2 linked regions of the Homo sapiens genome follow. The protein of the gene in region 1 interacts with the protein of each later gene in a pairwise test. Each region holds a gene or a part of one and is shown on either strand. Other genes may lie near its edges.

Evidence for each region.
Region 2: the proteins of ANKRD10 (region 1) and ZIC1 interact in binary tests that used the Homo sapiens proteins (3 or more experiments, as listed by UniProt).

Annotation. Positions count from the first base shown.
Region 1 is NC_000013.11:110,908,570-110,912,069, reverse strand, and holds part of ANKRD10 (ankyrin repeat domain-containing protein 10), read left to right. Parts: intron 1-1,299; coding exon 1,300-1,452; intron 1,453-3,500.
Region 2 is NC_000003.12:147,412,365-147,414,791, forward strand, and holds part of ZIC1 (zinc finger protein ZIC 1), read left to right. Parts: intron 1-153; coding exon 154-317; intron 318-989; coding exon 990-1,187; 3' UTR 1,188-2,427. UniProt on the Homo sapiens protein: Acts as a transcriptional activator. Involved in neurogenesis. Plays important roles in the early stage of organogenesis of the CNS, as well as during dorsal spinal cord development and maturation of the cerebellum.

The DNA.
Region 1 (3,500 bases):
AGAGGCTATCATGGTATTGGTGCTTGGCCACAAAGTCTTAACTTGCCATGTTAGTCACCCACTAGGTGCATTGCTCAGTTATGCTGTAGGCTTTTTTCCCCCATAGGGTTTTGAAAAGAGTAAAAAAATGTGGAGAATGGGGCCTCTATTGATTATTCAATGAGTATTCAGTGCTGGCTTGTGTAAAAGTGCACAGTTGTGCACACTATAGAAAATAGTCTTTGACTATGACGAGTTTACTATGGCTACACAAAGTTTGTGGGGTTTTTTGTTGTTGTTTTTTGTTTTTTTGAGACAGGGTCTTGCTCTGTTGCCCACGCTGGAGTGCAGCGGCGTGATCTCTGCTCACTGCAACCTCCACCTCCTAGGTTCAAGTGATTCTCCTGTCTCAGCCTTCTGAGTAGCTGGGATTCTAGGTATGCACTACCACACCCAGGTAATTTTTGTAATTTTGTATTTTTGAAACCCCAGTATGGGGTTTCGCCGTGTTGGCCAGGCTGGTCTTGAACCCCTGACCTCAGGTGATCCACCCGCCTTGGCCTCCCAAAGTGCTGGAATTACAGGCATGAGGCACTGCGCCTGGCATTACACAAAGTGGTGGTGGTGGTGTTGGTGTTTGAGATGGAGACTTGCTCTGTTGCCCAGGTTGGAGTGCAGTGGCGTGATCTCAGCCCTCTGCAACCTCCGCCTTCTGGGTTCAAGCAATTCTCCTGCCTCAGCCTCCCAAGTAGCTGGGATTACAGGTGCCCGCCACCACGCCCGGCTAATTTTTTTGTATTTTTAGTAGAGATGGGGTTTCACCATGTTGGCCAGGCTGGTTTCGAATTCCTGACCTCAAGTGATCCACCCGCCTTGGCCTCCCAAAGTGCTAGGATTACAGGCATGAGCCACTGCGCCCGGCCTACACAAAGTTTTTTAACCCACCAATCCCTTTAACGTTTTTGTTTAGAATAGTCTGTGCAACAAACAGTTTTGATAGAAGTCTTGGAACAGCGCAGTCCAATATTTTCTGATTTTGGCTTATTCAATTGTAGGGAAACAAATATTTAAATCTGTATAGTGTTAGTCGTCTTTTTGCATTTTTCTATTTCTATCTACCGTCTTTTTCATAAGGACAAGGGAATATGTTATCTTAAATGTCCTTTAAAATTTGCATGGCATTGGGAAAGAGTGACTTAATCTGTTAAAAAACTGGTAACAATGCCATTTGTCACCATTATAGAATTTCGATTATTCATGTAATATTGAATAGTGTACTGACATGTCTGCGTGTTTTCATTACCCCTCTTGTTTTCGAAGTTGGAGTGCTTAGTGCAGTTGGTGAGAGCGGGAGCCACACTCAACGTCTCCACCACACGGTACGCGCAGACGCCAGCCCACATTGCAGCCTTTGGGGGACATCCTCAGTGCCTGGTCTGGCTGATTCAAGCAGGAGCCAACATTAACAAACCGGTAAGAGTGCTGGTGATGGACTTGGTTTGCTTTTGCTTTTTCTTTTTGCAGTTATAATTATACACGGTATTGCTTTAAATCGAGGCCTTAATTAGAGTTTGATATCTTTACCTGAGGGCAGACTGGAATTTATGTTTCTTCAGTTGTTTGTGGAGGATAGTAGGCCCTTTCCATAGGAATGCTTTCTGTTCATAGAGTGCTTTCACCTGTTGTGTGATAAACTGATCCAGGGTGATGTGCCCAAGGTTATAGCTGGTAATTAAAGGAGCCTGGCCTTGAGCCCAGGTTTCCTGGCTTTCTACTCATAGCTGCCTTAGCCTCATTTCCACAGATAATTATGAAAACATTTTCATCCTGGGAAAAGCATGGCTATTAAGTCAGCTCCAAAGTGAGCTTCAGATACAAGTTGATGCCTTGATGCAGATAAGTGCTAAGTATCATTTACTAAGTGGGAAGAGTAAGTGACTTGAGGACTTGGTATTTAAACATACTGACAGGAACATAATCGTGCCAGATTTTTCTTCATGGTGTGTTTTCAGTATCATTTCACCTAAACCAAACACACACGCATTCAGATTGTTAGGTACTTAGTTGTGTGAGACAAGCAGCATCTAATAACCATTAGGTTGTCTGACTGGGAGCAGTCCCTAGACTCAGCGTCCTTTGCTGCAGATGGATTAGTCCTTAGACTAATTGATAATTTTCATCTCTTAAGACCTGGGCATGGGCTCTGGGAGCTGGTTTTTATGCCTTTTTTACTCCTATCTTTAAATGCTTTATAGTCATCAAGGTCTTGGATGCAAAGTCGTCTTTCTACTTTTCTTTCCCAAGATTCAGTCCTTCATGATAACCAGGCATAAGGTTGTTGCTAGTCCCTCTTCTAAAAACCCAGCTACCCACCTGAGCAGTAAGTAATTGAGAAAGAAGGTGTTTTTAGCCATGATTTAAAACAAGGATCAATGGGAAAGTGGGGTAAGTTATAAGGCAGTTTGTCCCCTTAAAAGATGTGAAGTAGAAAAGAAAATGGAAGGTGGCCAAGAGTTGAGGCCTGTTTGTTACTAAACTGAAATGTGGGATATGGGACAAGTTTTAAGGTTGTGCTGCCACTTCTCTCCTTCCATCTCCACACGTGTGCCTTTACATAATGTATATTTCTCTGCTGCTCTGTTGCTTGTCTTCATAAATTCGAGAGTTATGAATTACCTACTCAATACCCTTATGTGCTGGGCAGCGCCTTGTGTTTTTCCTTCTTCCCTACCCCTGTCCCCTGGTAGAAAGGGCAGTGTGGGCTTGATTCCTTGGGCAAGTCATTAACTTTGTGGCTCAATCTCTTTATCAGTAAAATACAGTTAATAATTCCATGAATGGCAGTAATTAATAGTATGGAATTTAAGTATATCATTTTTGTAGGTTAATTTTCATCAAATTGTTACATAGCATCTTATTTAGAGAGGACTAGAGAAATTGTCTAACACTGCTTTCCAGACCTTTTTAAATCAAGAAGCCCCCTTTTCAAAGTGTCTTATGGCAGTTCAGTATTTTCAGTAGATAAAGGGAGTGAGGCAGAAAGTGTGCTGCTGGGTCTCCCACCTTCCTCTCAGATGCCTCTAGATAACACCTCCTGGAAACTTCTACCGCACTCTGCTTCTTCCCAGGCAGGATCCTAAAATCTTTTTCTTTTCAGCCCTCCCTGTATTTGAAGTATCCGGGTAGACATTTCCAAGTCCTCACATGTGCCTAGTGCATATCATTTGGCATTGTAAAGCATCCTGGAATTTCTCCTTAGTGTATCTTAGGTAGTTGTGGTCTGCTGGCATGTGGAGTTTACATCCGAATCTGAGGCATCATCTCACTCTATTATGTAGTGGGTGAATTTCAACACCTCTTGTTATGGGCACCCAGTGACTCTAGAGGACACAATAGCCCTTTTGTTAGCTCCCCACCCCGCCTACCTGCTGACTCATCTCCAGGTAGACAGTTTCTCTCATTTCTCATATAAACTCAGGATGCCAAATCCAATCCAGGTTTTTCTCCTTTGTTGTGTCCAT
Region 2 (2,427 bases), on another chromosome or scaffold:
GAATTTATTGACGTTCCGGGTTTTTAAGCTTGCAAAGTGCTAATCCTGGGCTGCTGGCTTTTTGTTTTATTTTTTTTCTATTTGTTTAGTTTTTGAAAAACGGCCGCGGTATTTTTTTCTAATTAGACCCCTCTCATTCTACTTTGGCACCAGGGGAGAAGCCCTTCAAGTGCGAGTTTGAGGGCTGTGACCGGCGCTTCGCTAACAGCAGCGACCGCAAGAAGCACATGCACGTGCACACGAGCGACAAGCCCTATCTTTGCAAGATGTGCGACAAGTCCTACACGCATCCCAGTTCGCTGCGCAAACACATGAAGGTAATCGCCGCACTCTCGTCGCCCCCTTTGAGGCAGGAGCTCTCTTGGCTCTCGGCTTGGGGTCGGGCGGCGAGTGGCAGACAGGCGGTGGCGGGAGCCAGAGGAAGCGGGAAGGCAAAGGTTCCACTCAGTGGAACTGGGCAGAGAAGGTAGGGCGGGACCTGGAAAAGGGGATGGGAGTGTCCAAGGCCGTTTTAAATTTTTGGTTTAATAATAAAAGTTAAAAGAGGCGAGTATGAGCAAAGGCCGCCACTGAATTTGGCCCAGAGCTAGGGCTTTTGCAGGGGGTTGACGCTGCGGAAACTGCTGCCCTTGCAGCTGCCAGTGAGACGCAAGAATTGGACTCCTGCGCCCAGGCCTGAGCTCTGGCTCACCTAAACATGGACAAGCAAAGTTCAGGGAAAGAAAGTGCAGTCTCTGGCCTCATATCCAGTCTCCCTCTTCCCAGACCTATTTTTCTTTTGTGAGTCTTGGGGACCCTGACTTTCCCAGGAGCACGGTTTCTGCAGGCCTGTGCAGAGAAACCAAGCCCAAAGTCCCGCTGATCGGGCCTCACCTGTGTTCAGGGGGCTCCAAGGGGTCCAGGAGGAAGGGCACTCGCGGCCTTCGCCTCTCTAGTCGGCCGCCGCACTGGCTCTTTATGTCCGTAAAAACGCGACTTTATTCCTGCAGGTCCACGAATCCTCCTCGCAGGGCTCGCAGCCTTCGCCGGCCGCCAGCTCTGGCTACGAATCCTCCACGCCTCCCACCATCGTGTCTCCCTCCACAGACAACCCGACCACAAGCTCCTTATCGCCCTCCTCCTCCGCAGTCCACCACACAGCCGGCCACAGTGCGCTCTCTTCCAATTTTAACGAATGGTACGTTTAAAATCAGAAACAAAACATCGAACAAAACCCTATTTAAGAGACTGATCACACACGTATACACAACATTACTGAAAGAACCCTGCGAATCAAAACAACCCCCACACAGACCCCGCAATCCTTTTTTAAAAAATCTGCCAATAGACCCAGGACGAGTAAGAGAGGAAGCATCAACCTTTTAAAAATTTCCTTTCGCTTTCATTATTTTTCTTTTTTTGGCAAAGGCTTGGTACCCAAGGTGCGGTAGGGGGTCGAGGGGGAGGAGGCCACCTGACCAAATGCCGCCAACCCCGAGGGCCAGTTTCTTGTCGAATTGGTACGGGCTCTCTGGGGCTTCGGCTTCTTTTTTTCTTTGTTTTCTTGTAAATACAGAATTATTAGCTTAAAACTGTACTGTTGAATTCTGTAAATAGTTATATCTCGGTTGGAGCGGGTGGGTGGGATTGTGGCGTTGTGGTCTTTGCATTGGGGGAGGGGGGAGGGACCGGATGGGCGGGGGGAGGGGGAGGGGGAGGGGTGGGCGGCCGAAAGCCAACTGTTTGTACTGAATGGCAAGAATGTTCTAGTAAATGTGTACCAAAATGTGAATTACTTTGTACGATTACAGTCTCCACGTCGACCTAACCCAATATTATTGGTATTAATGTGCTTTTTTTGTATAAAGTGCAAACATTTCGTCCCAAAGTCTAAGTACTTTAGTGCAGTAAAATGTTGTTTCATGTCCTGTCAAGAATTCGTATAGTACGAGCCTGGATCTGCGTGTCAAACTGTTCCATTTGTTTATGTAAAGTGATATTAAAAAAGATATAAACTATAACTGTCCGTTACTTTTGGCAAAAGATACAACCACATAATGTATATAATTCCTAGTTTCCATATTTATCCGCATGTAAAGGGCCGGTTTATCCATGTTACAGCTCTTCAATATTTATGGCTAGAAGAACTCGTATGTACACTTTAGTTTCCAGAACTGTTTGGTAACCTTTCGTACCTTATTAAAGATTCTTAAATCTCCGTGATTGTGGTAGGAATTTCTTCTTCACCCACCAGCAACCTGCTGCCTCTTCTGCCAGTCTTAAAGGGTCTCCAGAAAAGCTCTCCAGTCTCCCTTGCCTTCCCTTTCTGTCACTGCAGGTCGTATAAACGTGATAAATGAATGCTACCCTGCTGGCTCTCCGAGAGAGTGTAATTAGTATTTATATCAAAATTTATGAAACAAATTTTCGGCCGCAGTATAATTTAAA